3 separate regions of the Homo sapiens genome follow, and regions 1 and 2 are each linked to region 3. Evidence: fine-mapped expression QTL. A gene starts in region 3. Each other region holds a variant in brackets. All regions are shown on one strand. Distances are between the middles of the regions. Region 1 holds the start of CD101 (CD101 molecule). Region 2 overlaps VTCN1 (V-set domain containing T cell activation inhibitor 1). Region 3 holds the start of TTF2 (transcription termination factor 2).

Region 1 (5,914 bases), 57 kb after region 3:
AAAGATCATAGGTTTGATAAGGCTGCCTGGGAGAATATTGATACTCTGACTAGAAATACAGATATTAGGAAGAGTTACTGTTGTGTGTATAAGGGTGAGTGAAAATATAATGCATTTAATTTTAGAAATACTAAATTTGAAGACCATGGAATAGACAGGAAGGATATCCAGCAAACATTTTGAAATATTTAAATATAGATATTTATATTTACATATAAATTATACATATTTTCAAAGGGTTAAATAGACTTTAACCCTTTGAAAATATTTGTAATCGAATCCTTTCAAAAACCCTGTGATATTCCCATATTTAGTTATGTAAAAACTCCTAGGATTTGAGCCAGACTTGAACATATTAATAGATCTGCAAATGCCAAATCCATGGCTGTCCCCATTGTTTCTTGTTGGCTCCTGTAAATGTCTGTTTGTAACTAGGGAGAGTTCTGAACTGTTAGATGTAGATTAGGTCAGTTACATACAAGTGTTGGGAAGTATTGGGGAACAGAAGGAAGAGGACTAAGGAGAGATTACTAGGGAATTTCTCTCTTTAGGGGATGGGATAAGGAACAAAACTTACAGAGGGAAGAGTTAGATGGAGGGCAACTAGGACACAGCGGCTGGAAATCAAGGGAAGAACATTCTAAGAGGAAAGGGCTTGTCAGCACTGCCAAAGGCTGCCAAGAGGTTGGGGACTCTGAAGGCAGAGGAGACTCCTGTTAGCTCGATGAGGAGGATGTCCATGAAGATCTTTGTAAAAGGGATTTCAATAGAGTGGAAGCAGCAGTTTTCAGGGTAAGAAGTGACTGCAGGAAGTGGAACCTACTTCCAGGAGTTTCATGGAGAAGGAAAAATGAAGATTAGGATGGCAGCTAGAAAGAGTAGCTAGGTGAGGAGCGGTAGGAAGGGGTGGGATGGAGAATGGGTGAAGCCAGCAAGGAGGATGAATGAAGTAATGTCCTAGTAGAGGGATGACAGGGAGGGTGCTGTGTTATAGTCTCAACGTCTGTGTCTTCCTAAAACTCACACGCAGAAACCTAATTTCCAAGGTGATGGTATTAGGAGATGGGGCATTTAGGAAGCAATTAGGTCATGAGGGCTGTGCTCTCATGAATGGGATTAATGCCCTTGTAAAAGAGTCCAGGAAGCTCGCTAGCCCCTTCTGCCACGTGAGGACACAGTTAGAAGGTGCTATGAGGAACAGGCCCTCACTGACACCAAACTGCCAGTGCCTTGATCTTAGACTTCCCAGCCTCCAAAACTAAATTTCTGTTGTTTATAAGCCCCCCTCCCCCACCCGCCCCAGTTTATGGTACTTTTGCTACAACACGCCAAACAGTCTAAGACATACTACTTTCTGAGAAAAGTGAAAGAAATAGTGTGGAGATTTCAAAGGTATTTTTCAGGTAGAAGGCATGACTGGCAGAGATCAACTCAAATGGCTATGCACTGGGGCCATAAGCTTAAGCATCTTACTATAAATATATTCTCTCTGGGTTTTTTCAAGTACATATCATCCACCCTCCGAAAAACACCTGTGAGGACTGCCCTCTTGCTCTCTCTTTTAATGGGTAGAGGGTTAGCTACTTTTGAATAGTAGCTCATATTCTTGTTGGCTGATGAGTACAAAGCTTGGCACTGACATACTAACATTAGAATCATGCTTTCAAAACACCAAAAATTCCTCGATGGTATTGACTTTCTTTAAAAATATCACTGGAATTGTCAAATTTACCACTGCAGTATTATTTGAATGAAAACGATTAGGTTGAACTGTATAAAATGGTCCATACTTGAGCACTTTTTATACCAAAAAAACAGCAGTTTCAAATAATGCTACCTTATACAAAACCTACCTCAGGAATAGCCAACATAACAAGCAGCTTCTTTCTCTTTTCACATTCAAAAACCCTATATGCTTGGAGGCTGAGATAGCTTCCATCCATACTAAGTGGAATCTTTTTTATTTTTCATGAATGCAAACTCAGTAAGACAGACAATAGCCCTTCCCCCAAACCCTGCCATATTAATGGCCATTATTTGTAGGGCAGCTAGTTTGGGTGGGGGAAATAGATCAAGCAGACAAAGCTAACTGCTAAATCCGAGAACTCATTTACCCATGACATTAATCTCATATGGCACCATTTTCTATCAGGATTGTTCAGTCCTTATATTTACTAAAAAAAAATTGGGACAAAGTGTAAATTTGCTAACCAATGTAATTGATCAATAGATCGTTATTTAAATAATTTATTTCAATTCCCCTCTATATTTGTAAGGACAAACAGCAGACTTCTAAAGCTTTTTCCAGTAACTTCCTGATTTATGTATTCTTCACATAAAAACTGTGCTTCTACACAAAATTAGTGCTTCAGATGAGTCAGAATTTAGAAGAAGTAAATGTATAACCCAGTTTAGGTAATTGTTTAAATGGGTTAAGGAAAAGCTTCCAGCTTCCCCTTTTTGAGCCTTGATTACTACTTTCCTTCCCCCAGGGCTTCTAGCCTGCTTACCAAAAAAAGAGACAGAATTTGCAATTCTATGAATTATTGCACAATGTAAACCCAGTTTCCTCCTATATACATAGCAAACATAGAATTCAAATACACAAAGCACATACACTTGAGAATCACACTCAGACAACTTAACCAAACAACAAAAACACACCAGCCCCCAAAGGATCCCACCAGTGCACCTATCCATCAACACCCGCCAAGCCAGTCTGGCAGGCATCCGTCACCCAGCAAGTGGTCCCAGTAACTTCCCCTGCAGGCCCTAGGTCTGACTCTTAACCTCACACTATCATATGTACCTAGAGACATGAGCACAATTCAACTCAATCAATGTTTATTAAGCAACCTCTTTGTGCTGAATGCTGTATTCTTTTCTTTTAATTCTTCAGCCATAGTCCTGGTCACACCAAATGCAGCTTGGTTTAGTTCCCCAATCATCCCA[G/A]CCATTCGGGTCCCTGCACTGGCTCCATCCAGTCTCTCTAAAGCAAGAGTTTTGTTTGTTTGTTTGTTTTTTTAGATGGAATCTCACTCTGTCACCCAGGCTGGAGTGCAGTGGCTCAATCTTGGCTCACTGCAACCTCCACCTCCCAGGTTCAAGCGATTCTCCCACCTCAGCCTCCCAAGTAGCTAGGGCCACAGGTATGTGCCACCATGCCCAGCTATAAAGCAAGAGTTCTTAACTGGGTCCACATGTAGGATTAAAGGGTCCATAAACTAGGGTGAAAAATAATCTTACATCTTTATTTTCATTTTTGCCTCTAATGGAAATTTAGTATTTTCTTCAGTTATGTATGTAGACAACCACAGATATCTTCATATCACATTACAACTACTTAAGATATATTGAAATGTTATTTATACTCATCATTACTTTGAAGTTTGGTGGTTAAAAGACCTACCTGTAGATTTTGTTATGTAATGCATAAATAAGAAGCAAATAAATTACTGCATTATAATTTATTTAAAATATTTTGATACCTGTATTTCAATGTGACTGATTTCCTCTGTAATTCTATGCATTTTATTTTATGCATTTTAAACATTATTCTGAGATGGAGTCTATTCTCTTTACCAGATGTTAATGAAAACTGTAGCATAAAAAGTACCTGCTATCTGGTTTGAAACTATTCCATTACCTGCTCAACTCATCTGACTCTCCCTTCTACCTCCAAATTTTCTCTTCTTCCATCCTATTCAAACATAGATAAATGCCCCTAGATCAGGCAAGCCCCTCTGCATGGCCCTCAGTAGAGCCAAGTGAATCTTCCTGTTCATTTCTCAGTCTCTCAGTAGTCAATTTCCACTTCCACTCGCAGGTGAAATCTAGAACCTTCTTTTAGCATAGTCTAAAACTACTAAGTACTTTCATAACCTTTCTTTCCATCCAGTCATATCTGCAAGGCATAGTTATCCCATCAAGCCTTAATATCAGGCAAACCTTAAGGTCTCCTCTCAGTTTGGGACACAAAGCTTTTTTACTGTCTCTTGGGATGATCGGCCCAGGAAGATGAGTAAAGCCAGGGCCAAGCAAAACTGACAGATCTGGCAACACACACAAATGTTAAAACCAATGGAATCTTGTGCATGGGACTCAACCAAGCATTGTGACTCCCTGGAACTCAAGGATGTCTAGGTAAGCCAAGAACTGTCATTAGTAAGTCAAAAATTATTGCTAACATCAGAAATATATGGCATAGTTGTTCCTGTAGAGACCAAATTGTCCTGTTCCATCACTCAGCACCCTGAGTTGATGAACTCCTGTGACAAGAGAAACATAAAGGATTATGAAACTTACTCAGAAGGAGAAAGAAAGATGCCACATATGAGATGCCTGCCATTTGGGCCAGCACAGTCCTTTTTCGTCCCAATAGTGTCACTAACATTCAGAGGTTGAGTGACAAATGCTGTGCTCTCACTGCAAAGTAAAGAGGAAGCAAAAGTGTGGTTTTCAGCCCACTGAGAAATAGAGATGTCTTGTGAAAAGCAAAACTGGTTACATTATGTAGCTCTTTACTAATCACTCAAATTTGGGAGTAAAAAAGTTATCTTTGTGGTTAAGTAAACAGATATCGATAAAACTAAGAAAAGATGGGTCTCAACCTGGCTCACAGTATGTGTCATTTGGTAATGATGAGAGAATTTAGGTAAACTGAATAAATAAAAAAGGCACCAGCAATGTTGTCTTCTTGGCCCTTCCTTCTCCTCCTCTCTTGAGAGAGGAAATGACTGAGAAATGGGAGAAGGCCCCTGAAAAACATGAACTTGGGGCGACATGAGGTGGTGCTGAAGGTTACAGGCTCTAGAGTCAGGCTGCCTGGGTTTGCATGCAGATTCTAGTTTTAGTAACTGTGCAATCTTAGAAAACTTAATTAACTTTTCCTAACCCTCATTGCTAAAATGAGGATACTAATAGTAGGTACCCTGTAAGATTACTGTGAATGCCAAATGAGCTAATTTTTTAATTATTTTTTTATTTCTTTTTTTTTGTATTTTACTTTTTTTTATTATTATTATACTTTAAGTTCTAGGGTACATGTGCACAACGTGCAAATTTGTTACATATGTATACATGTGCCATGTTGGTGTGCTGCACCCATTAACTCGTCATTTACATTAGGTATATCTCCTAATGCTTTCCCTCCCCCTTCCCCCGACCCTATGACAGGCCCCGGTGTGTGATGTTCCCCTTCCTGTGTCCAAGTGTTCTCACTGTTCAATTCCCACCTATGAGTGAGAACATGCAGTGTTTGGTTTTTTGTTCTTGAGATAGTTTGCTGAGAATGATAGTTTCAAGCTAATTTATTTAAAGCACTTAGAACAATATCTGGTACATAGTAACTGCTCAATGAATATTAGCTACCATCATCACCATCATGAGACATTTAAGTAAATCTTCATCTGCCCTGTGAAACTGCCTTTGCAAAAATTGTAACAGTGAGAAAGTTATGACAGTGAAAGGGATCTGACCTCACCATCTCCATCTTGCTTCTAACTTCCAAGCTGCCCTTGTTAATTCCTGGTTGTAGGCCAAACTAACTTTGGGAGGAATTTAGCTTAGTTTAATTTTGAAACAAAGAGGATAACAGCCCTTTCTGGAAACAAACCCCCTTCTTGCCTGGGGAGCAGACTTCCCTAGTAAGACTAACAAATTAGCCACAACATTAGAAATTATGGTTTAGGAGTCATGCAGCCAGAGGCCACACAATTCCAACCTCCCCAACTGTTCCTAGGGATAACATCACTATTGTAAAACCTAAATTGGTGCTCAAGGTATTTTTCAGACCCTGCATCCTGATGCACCAGCTGACACCATCCAGGCTGGTGATCTGGTTCCACCAGTTCTTTGATCCCACTTAGGAACGGAAGACTGCAAGAACCCCCTTTGATCCCCTGTGATTTCATCT
Region 2 (5,914 bases), 100 kb before region 3:
ATATCTTCTTATTGGGTTGGCACTCTACATGTCTCAATCTGGCCCTGGGTATCAGCAAAATATGGTAGAAAGGGCATAGGCTCAGGGCCAGACCAGGTTGTGTTTGACCCTGACTCTACTAACAGCTAGATCCAAGGCATTCGGCAAGCCATTTAACCTCATGGAGTCTCTATCCTCATCCATAAATGGGTATAATGGTCATTCTTACTCTCTCATGGCTTAAAATGAGTCTCTGTAAGCAAACATTTAGTGAAATGTTGTTTTCCTTACCTCCTGGGGCTCTGATCTGCAATCTTTCCAAATGATTGTAGTTAATAATGGTTATTAATATCAATACTGATTTAAGGTTTAGCATGTGGCAATTCAGGTACAATATTTAGCACTTTACCTGCATTGTATCATTAAGTCCTTTCAGGAACCCTCTAAGGGAGCATCCCCATTTTACAGATTTTAAAAAATGGTGAAATAAAGGGTTAGAAAACTTGACCAAGGTCACATATCCAATAAGTGGCAGAGCTGGGACTTCAACCCAGGCAGCCTGTACCTGTGCCATGTTCTCAAACACCATGTTCTGCTGCTTTCCTACATTGTTCCCGTATCTGGCCTTGCCCAGTGTCCTTTTAAATTTCTTCTCACGGAAGCAACTGTTCTCCCCACCCCACCGTCTTCTTTGGCAAGAGTGACACTCACAGGTTTGACCCCAAGGTTAAGCTTTGCATTTCGACCTTGTAAGCCATGTACTGTGGTGCCCATCTGGACAGCTGAGTTTTAGCAGATGCTGGTGACCATCTGCTGAAGACATCTAGCATGCTCTCTATGCTACTGGAATGTACGAACCTGTCTTTCTGAGTCATTTCAAAGGACAGCTCATTTTCCAGGTTTTATCCAGCGCTGTGGGCTGCCCCAGCATCATAGTTTCTGTAAAGAATCCTTGTCTTGTGTTACCTATACCCCCACTTCAAGATATTCCTACTCCTACAACGGAGCGCTGATTGAATAGTACTCCCACTGTGTGAACCCAGAGCTGCTCAGGTTTCGTCTTGCCCCTGCTTTAACAGCCCCACTTTCCTCATGCAGACAGGAGCTGTGGTAGTTAATTAGCCCTCACAAGCTGGATAATTAATTTTCAGTAAGTGGCTCAGTCTTCCAATTTTAAAGGGGTTTAATGAAATCTTAGAGGTAAATGAAATGCTTAAAATCTGTGCCCATTTAATAGAATTCTCTATCAATAGGTACCTGCCTCTAGCCCATCTCCATGGGGTCCTTTTGTCCTTTGACTCAACAAGTCACACAAGAATCTCTGGTGGAGTGAGTCTCTGTCTCCAAAAAATAAAAAAAAAAGAATCTCTGGTGGTCAGTAGGCCTGGAGAGTCATAGGAGGCCAGATGGCATAATCCTCCTTGAGCCTATGTTTGTTTGCAAGTCTGAATAGTTTCTTTTCTTGTGAGAAGTAATATTTACATGTGGTTGCTTGCAAATTAAATTTTGTCACTTTTAACAATCATTTATTCACTTAACAAACAAGTATTTTATTGACTGCTTTCTGGGTGCAAAGCAATGGCTAGGTCCCTGTGGTTTTTTTAAGTTCTCACTGGCTCTTATTTCTCTTCTTTATTTGACATTGGGGTGGAGGGGATTTAATCAACATTACACTCATTCCATCTGCCACATCATTAATGCAACCTTAAATGACTAGAACCTGCAGCAGGTCCCTAGGGCATTCCACAGCTGCCTACTTTTAATCATTAACTTCTCTGGGAGATATTTCAACGGATTCCCTAACTGTGAGCTCAAGGCCAACATATTAAAATTAATTCAGTAATACAGTTGCTGAACTAAGGTATGTCATTACCATTTCATTCTCTCCATAAACTGTGCTAATCATGTATTTTTTCTGAGAAGTAATCTTTCAATTCAACTTTAATGGCACTTTATCAACAACCATCAAATTTACCTTTGCTGTAACATAGTTGTATTTGATTCATGATTTTATTGTGAACCTCTCAGTATTTTTATTGCCTTCCTTTTCATTGGATCACATTTCCCCAAAGTTTAGATGTGGTAATCCTGCCAAACGTCCCTTACTCCTACAATAATTTTAGCCTATCTCAAACAATGCTTTGATTTCTACTGATTTCCATTTATTTATTCATTTATTCATAAACTCAGCAAACATTATTTTTCTCTGCAGAAACATAGCTCTAGGCACTACAGGACTTACAGATAGGATTAAGACAGTTTCTGCTCTTGAAAAGCTCACAAACTAGTTCCAGAGATAGATTAGAGACCAGGTAGAGGGAGACAGCTGCTATAATAAAGGCCAAAAAGACAAAAAGTTACAGGAAAGTAAAGAGAGAATCTACTAATTTTTCCTTTGGTGAATTAAAAGAGGATTTCATGGGAGGGCTGCCATCTGAACGGACTTTGAATATAAGTAGAATTTGCATAACTGGTGTTAAAGAAGTGTGAGCTATGAATTAATAGGTACAAGATGAACAGCAGTGTGAAGGCGCATAGTGTAATTGTGTAACCCATGCTAGCCTGGGATGCCTTGGATATCATTCTCTAAGTAACAATACTTGCAAAGCAAACTGAATCTTTAAATCAATGTTCAAGAAAATACCAATGCAGGGAATGGAGGTGTGTTGTGTTCTTATTACACAGCAAAAACTTCATTTTGTCCTCTTTCATAATTCGTCTCCCAGATCTCCCACAGGAATGGCCATGCATGGCAGCTGCTTCCAAAGTGTCTTTTCTCACGCTCTCAAGCCTCCAAAACATCCTTCCAAACCAGGCTATGTACTTGTTTTTGTCTCCTCTTCCTCCTTTTCTAGCTATAATTTTTCTTCCATCAGTAGCCTTCTGTTCTTTCTGCTGCAAATCCATCTAGATTAGCTTCTCCAGTTCTCTTCCTCATTCATTACCCTCATTTACTTTGTAGAGGTCTAGGAGTCAATGAGATAATTCCAACCCCTAATAGGCTGGAAGAGGAGAAGAGCCAAGGATATCCTTATGTTGATAATGTTTACCTCTCACATTAAAACAACAACAACAACAACAACAAACACGTCTGCTTTGTTTGTATGTTTTTTATTTAAGGCAGAAAATCAACAAATAATTTGATACAGACAGACAGAATGGACTATGAAAGGATGTAGTTGGAGAGAAGGCTGCAAAGACAGCAATAAGGGCTAATATGTATGGAGCATTTACTATGTAGCAGGCAGTGTTTAGCTTTGAAGTCCAGGCTGGAAAATCTGAAATCCATTCCACAGCTCTTAGGAACCATTAAAGATGAGTGATTAGAAAACAGATATGTTCAAATTGTACTGTAAGAAGGTCTACCTGTAGGATTAATGCATGTAAAATGGATTGGATGGAGG[C/T]GAAGATGAAAGGTAGAAATACCAATAAAGAAGCTGATAAGTCCAGTTAGGAAGTGCTCAGGACCCGTTATGTTGGGCTTTTTTGGCTGTAAGAAAGAGAGACTTGTGCAGGCCACTTTAATATCAGGTGTTGTTTAAAGGATGTGCAGAGATTAGGACAGGAACTAGACCTGAACACCCCAGGATCCAAGACAGCTCTGGGGATGAAAGACTCTTTCCATTTTTCTCTCCCATGGTCTCTCCCCCATACTTCTTTGTGTCTCCTCCACTCTCCTCTTGGGCTCCAAGGCCATCTGCCCTTAGTTTCATATCCAAGCCACAGAAAGAGCCTCTCAAGAAGATTCAGTTAATTAAATCACCCCAATAGGTGTCCTCAGTCAGCAGCCCCCAGTGTACAATGAACAGCTGATTGATCCTTCCTTGACTGGGTAGGCTGTAGGCTGGCCAAGTGAGGAGGAAGCAGTTGGATACAGCTGGCACATAATTAATATTTCTACTGGTGGTATGTCAGTAGAGGAGAGGGTGGCTTTCATTTTAAACCAAAAATCAACTGAATTAAATACAGTTCTTCATTATGCTATAGCTAGCACTGTAAACTTGATCAAATCAGTTATTTTCTCACTGCCTTAGTTTCTATGTCATTCAAACAGAAATAAAAGTTACAGCACTTTAGAATTCAGCATTTTTCAGAATGACTAGGCCACATTTAGTTAACATGAGATTTCACTTCTGTGCTACTTCTGGTTAACTGAGAATAACAATACCTTATATGTGTAATTACAGTTTGCAAATCAGGTTAATATCCATTTGATTTGATCCTCACAAGAAACCTTTAAAGTAGGTGATATAGTTTGGCTCTGTGTCCCCACCCAAATCTCATCTTAAATTATACTCCCATAATTCCCATGTGTTGTGGGAGGGACCTGGTGGGAGATCATTTGAATCATGGGGGTGGTTCCCCCCATACTGTTCTCATGGTAGTAAATAAGTCTCACAAGATCTTATGGTTTTATCAGGGGTTTCTGCTTTTGCATCTTTCTCATTTTCTCTTGCCACTGCCATGTAAGAAGTGCCTTTCACCTCCCGCCATGACTCTGAGGCCTCCCCAGCCATGTGAAACTGTTAAGTTCAATTAAACCTCTTTTTCTTCCAAGTCTCGGGTATTTCTTTATCAGCACTGTGAAAATGGACTAATACAGTAAATTGGTACCAGTAGAGTGGGGCACTGCTGAAAAGATACCCAAAAATGTGGAAGCAACTTTGGAACTGGGTAACAGGCAGAGGTTGGAACAGTTTGGAGAGCTCAGAAGAAGACAGGAAAATGTGGGAAATTTTGAAACTTCCTAGAGACTTGTTGAATGGCTTTGACCAAAAGCCTTATAGTGATATGGACAATAAGGTCCAGACTGAAGTGGTCTCAGATGGAGATGAGGAACCTGCTGAGAACTGGAGTAAAGGTGACTCTTGTTATGTTTTAACAAAGAGACTGATGATGTTTTGCCCCTGCCCTCGAGATTTGTGGAACTTTGAACTTGAGAGAGATGATTTGGGGTATCTGGTGGAAGAAATTTCTAAGCAGCAAAGCATTCAAGAGGTAACTTCGGTGCTGTTAAAGGTATTCAGTTTTATAAGGGAAGCAGAGCATAAAAGTTTGGAAAATTTGCAGCCTGACAATGTGAAAGAAAAGAAAAACCCATTTTCTGAGGAGAAATTCAAGCTGGCTGCAGAAATTTGCATAAGTAATGAGGAGCTGAATGTTAATCCCTAAGACAATGGGGAAAATGTCTGCAGGGTATGTCAGAGGTCTTCATGGCTGCCCCTCCCATCACAGGCCTGGGGTCCTAGGAGAAAATAGTTTTGTGGGCCGGGCCCAGGGTCCCCATGCTGTGTGCAGCCTAGGGACTTGGTTTCCTGTATCCCAGCTGCTCCAGCTGTGCCCAAAAGGGTCTTGGGCCATGGCTTCAGAGGGTGCAAACCCCAAGTCTCGGCAGCTTCTATGTGGTGTTGAGCCTGTGAGTGCACAGAAGTCAAGAATTGGGGTTTGCGAACCTCCACCTAGATTTCAGAAGATGTCTGGAAATGCCTGGATGCCCAGGCAGAAGATTGCTGCAGGAGTGGGGCTCTCATGGAGAACTTCTGCTAGGGCAGTGCAGAAGGAAAATATGGAGTCGGAGCCCCAACACAAAGTCCCCCTGGTGCACCACTTAGTGGAGCTGTGAGAAAACAGCCACTGTCCTCCAGACCACAGAATGGTAGATCCACTGACAGCTTGCACTGTTCTTCTGGAAAAGCAACAGACACTCAATGCCAGCCTATGAAAGCAGCTGGGAGGGAGGCTGCACCCTGCAAAGCCACAGGGGTGGAGCTGCCCAAGACCATGGAAACCCACCTCTTGCATCAGCATGACCTGGATGTGAGACCTGGAGTCAAAGGAGATCATTTGGAGCTTTAAAATTTTGGACTTGCATAGGCCCTGTAACTACTTTGTTTTGGCCAATTTCTCCCATTTGGAATGACTGTATTTACCCAAT
Region 3 (5,914 bases):
GTGCATTTATAAATGAAATTCAACTCCACAATAAAAATGAATGAATTACTGATACATATTATATACATTTCACATACTGTTAAGTAAAAGAAGTCAGACACAGAAGAGTACATGCAGTAGGATTTCATTTATATAACGTTCAAGAACAATCAAAACACATCTAAAGAGATAAAAATCAGAACAGTGATTGCTGACAGGGGTGGAGATGGGAGGGGTGAAATTAACTTGAAGGGGACTGATGGCACTTATTGGGGTAATATTTTGACTCGGATCTTGGTTTTATGAGCAGGTACATGCATTCTCAAAACTCAACTGGTTGAAATCTTAAGACTTGTGTATCTTACTATACATATAACTAAATTAAGAAAAATAGAAGTATGAACAGTACTCAGGTATATAAAAATTGTAGGTGGTACTCAAATGCCTTTAATTGGGTGGGGGGATCTAGAATATATAAATTATGAAGTGCATAGAATATCACACAAAGACCATCTATCACATCCTGACCCCTACCTTCCTGGCCAGCCTTATCGCCTAAAGTCTCTGTTTAAAGATATGTTAAACTATTAACAAATCAAATTTTCCCTGAAAATGCCATGTTAATTCATGCCTTAGTACTCTAATGCAATATATTAGTCCATTAAATATGACCTCTCTCTAACACTTAGGGAATTCCTACTTTATCTTTGAATACTCGTGACAAATATCTCCCAGCTCTATAGACTTCTCTGCCCTTCCCAAATTCCCATATAAAGGAAAAGAAACTAACATTTATTGAGGACTAAATATGTTTAGCCATTTTTACTCACTACCTTGTTCTATTACCAGAATTAGAAGATTGACAAGTTAAGGGCAAGTTAGTGGCCAATGGTCAGCTGTCATTATAGGCTACCTGACAGTTGGAGAGGGATGATTGTGGAGCCATTTACGTGAAAATTACTAGAAATCAGACTTCTCAGATTAACTAGCTGCTTGGTATTTAGGTAGTGACAGCCAAAAGACACTTAATACATATACAAATTTTGTTTTTTAAAATGACTTTTAAAGAACAATCCTAATACATACCTGGCTACAACTCTTTCAGGGAGAAAAAAAAAAAAAAGCAAATACACTTAGATGTTCCTTTTGGACCCTTACCTGTATTCTTTCTTGTCCTGTGGCAGAAGCAAACCCTGAAGCTCTACCACAAAGTCCTCATGCAATAAGCAATGGGAAACAGGAATGCTAGAGAAAAGAAAAAAGTTGAAAACATTTTTAGGTCAGGAACAGAGATCAATATCCTAAAGTCAAATCAAAACTATGGGTTTTTACACCAAGAATCTATGTATAACCTCTACTGGGTTTGTAATTCCCACACATTATCACAGCTATGGGCATTCCTTTGGGGAAGAAGTCCCTAGCTTTCATCTTTACCCACTTTCTCAAATAAAGCATAACTGTTTCTTGATGACTCAAAAGTTTAAAACCACACTGCACTGTGTAATCTCTACACTGGGATCCCCCTACGAATGACATAATTAGGGCTGGCTGTGAGGCCCTGTATGAATTTTCCCCAGGCTCTTCCCTTCATCCTTTCCCTCTAACAAGCTGAGAGCTGTCACTTAGTGTTATTCACACGCCTACCTCTAACAATACGCCCTATATGCTTCTTGTTTTGTGTAAGTTTTTAATCACTCCCTTCCAACTTATTATGAAAAAATTTAAATATATATAACATTTGAGAGTAAACAGGTTTGAGTGAAGGTTTAAAGTACTCTCCTAAACCTGTGGCACTTTTTTTGGCCTGTATATTGGTTATCAGATATAGTCCAAATAAATCAAGTTTATCAAATAATTGTCTTCAAATACCACTGTGCTAGTTTGTATAGCAAAGCATTTGTGTAGATGGGATCCTAAATAAGAGTGTTTCTCTTAATGTAAAACCAAATCTTATGCCACCATTAATGTTGAATTCCTGCAAAGGTAAAAATGCTTCTATCTCACAAAACTTGACCTGGGTACTATATCTGAGAGGCTCAGTGTAAATCATCTAACTCATGAAACAGAAACATGGGAAGTTAGTATACATGTTGAAAGGGCACTTTTCTAATACTGATATCCATTATGTACTCTACATCTGACACGGAGAAAAATAACTTTTCTCTACCAAGTTTTGCTGAATAGAGAGCAGGAGATGTTTAATGATGTGATGATAGTTTTAAAATTCACATAGAAAATGTAGACACTTGGTACTGTGAAAACATTAACACTTGACAAACTATTAACTTTCCTCACTTTAGAGAAGATGCTTAACATTTCTGACTCTCTCCTCCCACCTCAGCCTCACGAGTAGCTGGGACTACAGGCGTGTGATACCATGCCTAGACAATTTTTTTTAATTTTTCGTAGAGACGGGATTTCACCATGTTGCCCAGGCTGGTTTCGAACCCCTGGGCTCAAGCGATTCGCTCGCCTTCGCCTCCCAAAGTGCTGGGATTACAGGCGTCACACACCGCGCCAGGCCCTCCGTTGTTTCTTCCAGCGCTAATTTCTTTGAATTATCAATTTCACCATTTAGATGCAGAGAATCCTACTTAAAAATAAGAAGGCTAACAACTAATCACTAGAGTGTTTTAAGCTCAAACATTTAAAAAAAACCGTCGGGCCTAAAACTAGTGCAAAACAGGGACAAATTATTTTCCACTATGTCTGCTGTGTGTCCTTACTCCTTTAAAGGGGGAGGGACTGTCTGGGCAGGAGAAGGGAGTGGTTAAGGCCTGTCAAGTGAATAGAAACCCAGAGCTGGAAAACACCGGATCCTCAATTTTACAGGTAGGGGAACCATCGGCCCAGAGAGGGGGGTAACCAGCCTCGGGTCACACAGCCAGAATTAGCTGGGCGTCTTCCGAACACGCCACGCTGCCCTGGGATCACCAATTGCTTAAAGGGTCCTGACACCGCAAACTAGGGCCCCACCACTCCTCGGCCCTGTGACGCCCGACAGCGGGGAGCGGGAAGCTCCTCTCGGGAGGCCCCGGGCAGCCACAGGGAGTGGGGCCCAGCTCCAGACCTACTCGGTGGCCCGCACGAAGCTGCACGTGTCTGCCCGGCACACGTAGAAGCTCTTTCCTTTATTCGGGCCATCGCGGACGCCGGTCTTAAGAAAGCAGAAAGTCCCTGAAGAGAGAAGAAAGTGAACAACGATTACGCCACGCTAAATCAACAGGCCCCGGGACGCTGAGACCCTAGCCCCTTACCGTGCTCTGGACACCTAACTTCTTCCATTTCGCTGGGTCCCCCAAGTTCCACAAAGCCCCGCCCCCAATTCTGCTTCCGCCTTTTACTCCGCCCTCTTTGTTCAGGAACCAACCATCACTCAGCTCTTGCAGTCTTAATCCCTCCCATAATTCTCCGCCCTTGGCCTTCACCCGTCCTAGCCGCTATCAGCCAATCATATAGGAACTTCGCTCACCTCCAACCAATCACAGCTGCCCTCAGGTATGGCGCGCGCCGAAATCAAATACGGAGCCAGGGGGCGTAAAGGACCCGGCTTTTGCAGGCTGGGGCGTGGCTGAGGCTGGGGAGAAGCTTAGAAGGTGGCGGGGCTTCTGGAGGAAAAGAAGCTTCGATTTGCAGGTCTTGGAAGACGGAAGGGCAACTCTTGTTTACGTTTAAAACCGAGAGGCGGCCCTAGGGGTAGCGCCAGTTAGCAGGCGCTGAAAGGCCCTGGCTTCGTGGGTGTCTCTGAGCCAGGCTGGCGCTCGTGCGCGCTGGGCTCCGCGCTCAGTCGCTGGGGTGGGAGGCCAGGGGAAGCCGCCGCTGCAGGCCGAGCCGCGAGATTTGCAGTGCAGGAGCCGAAGCGGCGGGCATGGTGGGAGGTCCTTGGAAGCTGCTGCGGGGAACTGAAACGGCTCTGATAGGCAGGCACAAAGACTTCTCTAGGACCCCCTACAATGCTTTACGTTTGCCTCGTGCTTTAGATTTCACAAAGTGCTTACACATAACACGACCCTCCTCACTCGACCTGGTGAGATGGGTAGCATTTTGTGGAAGATTCCGAGACTCAAGTTTGAGAGACTCACCCAAGGTCAGAGTTGGCGAGTGGGCGGTCCGTGGACAGGTGCGCAGGTCTCAGCGCCATTTGGCCCGCGCTGCTGCTTCCTGTGTGTACTGGATGTTCTCTAGGCTCGCCCAGCGTGGAAGCCCCGAGTTACCAGCCGCAACGTGGAAACCACAGAAGGGGAAATAGATGACTTTTGGTGAAGGCGAATTTTACTTTATCATTTTGTATTGTCAAACTTTTTTTTACTATTATGCTTTTGTAATTTTAAAAATCGAAGACGAGGTTAAATAGAAGAAAGGGGACAGTTCCCTTCTATTTAACTTCATCCTCGATTTTTAAAATTTGAAGTTGTAATCAAAACTATTAGTAAACAGAGAGGAATAGATATTAGATTTATTGCAATAGAAATAGTTTCATATTGCAGCTATTGAGGACCATATGTCCCAGACATATGGTGTGGCACCTGCACTGTTCTTATGGGGGCCGTAGAACAGAAAATCTGTAATGTCTAGGAAATCTGGGCGATGTGATAAATGTACATGTTATGGGGATCCGGAGGAAGGGAGACAAACCTGAGGTATCATTTATTAATTAAACAGTACTTACTAAATAGCTTTTTTGTGCCCGTTGTGGACTAGGTGCTTGAGAAATGTAAAATTCATTCATTCACACACACAAAGTTTGAAACAACTATTCTAAGCACAAGGAACTTACTCAGTATTTTGAGGAGACTGAACTAGTACATGTTGAACACTTAAATAACAATATAAAATAGTATTTAAATGTCAAAATGAATGGAGTTAGCAGTAACTCTCTAGGACTAGAGAAAAATGGAATTTCCAAAGTGAAGTTCCTTTATACATAACTACCCTTCCGAAACTTAGATGAACTTAGAGATAAGACAGGAACAACAAATAGGTAGAAGCATTTTCATTATTCCAAGATTGTTATTCTTGCAAATGATGTATTTGTACATGTTTAATAGATGCTGTATTGGAGGTAGTATACCATGAATACAGGATTTGCAGAAAGAGGGGCATGGTAATTAATTATTTCTTGAATAATTTTCGAAACAAGGCAAAATCGGGGCCTCTTAAATATCCCGTTAAGGAAGAAGCTCCTCCTCTGCAAGTACCCAAGTCGGTATCTCCAGTCCAACCTCACAAAAGTGTGCACAGCCAAATCACAGACAGGAGGAATATTTCTTCCATAAATTAAAAATATACTAGATCAAAATGTTAAGTCCCTGGACAACTTATTCCACCTCATCATATTTACAAGATTGAAAAAAATAAGTTTGAGATTGGACGAAAGATGGTCATAACTGGAAACATTTTTAAAATTAATTTTTATGCCCGTTGAGTATGGTGGTGGGCACCTGCGGTCCTAGCTACTCAGGAGGCTGAGGTGGGAGGATGGCTTGAGCCCACAAGTTTGAGGCTACAGTGAGCTGTGATTGTGCCACTGCACTCTAGCCTTGGTGACAGAGTGAAACTTTGTCTCTTAAAAAAAAACTTATGCCTATTGAAATAAATAATAATGAATTATACAACATACACTTTTCAAAATATACACATGTATTGGTGTATGTGTATTAATTTTTATTCTTAATTTATATTTTAAATTTATATTGTTAATTAGCCTACAGACCCCCGGAGAGACCTTGGGAGAATGTGCTTTATGGATCTCTATTTTGAGTAAAGTTTAGAGTTTGTTTTTCCTTAAAGCTTGATTTATTCAAAATAATGTCTAGGCTGGGTCCTAGATTTAGATGGCTTAAAATGCACAGGTTAATTATCCAATAAATTTGTTCAGTATGGAGCTGGTCAAATGCAAAGTATATGTTGGAATTGTTCTAAAACTGGATTGTGG

The links.
Region 1: its variant is fine-mapped to the expression of TTF2 in lung (GTEx, PIP above 0.99).
Region 2: its variant is fine-mapped to the expression of TTF2 in whole blood (INTERVAL, PIP 0.98).

What each region holds. Positions count from the first base shown.
Region 1 is chr1:117,000,252-117,006,165 of GRCh38, reverse strand. It overlaps CD101 (CD101 molecule), which reads right to left and starts at 4,406. Exons shown (of 10, transcript NM_001256106.3): 1 at 4,306-4,406. The coding sequence starts at 4,348. The variant G/A (reference allele first, on the strand shown) is at 2,953.
Region 2 is chr1:117,157,871-117,163,784 of GRCh38, reverse strand. The region is part of intron 2 of VTCN1 (V-set domain containing T cell activation inhibitor 1); the gene reads left to right. Among named protein-coding and RNA genes, the nearest start is that of TRIM45, 39 kb to the right of the region's middle. The variant C/T (reference allele first, on the strand shown) is at 3,384.
Region 3 is chr1:117,057,697-117,063,610 of GRCh38, reverse strand. It overlaps TTF2 (transcription termination factor 2), which reads right to left and starts at 3,285. Exons shown (of 23, transcript NM_003594.4): 1 at 3,237-3,285; 2 at 3,054-3,156; 3 at 1,138-1,224. The coding sequence starts at 3,264. It overlaps CD101-AS1 (CD101 antisense RNA 1), which reads left to right and starts at 4,121. Exons shown (of 4, transcript NR_110786.1): 1 at 4,121-4,238. RefSeq lists an enhancer at 3,585-3,744 and a silencer at 4,165-4,214.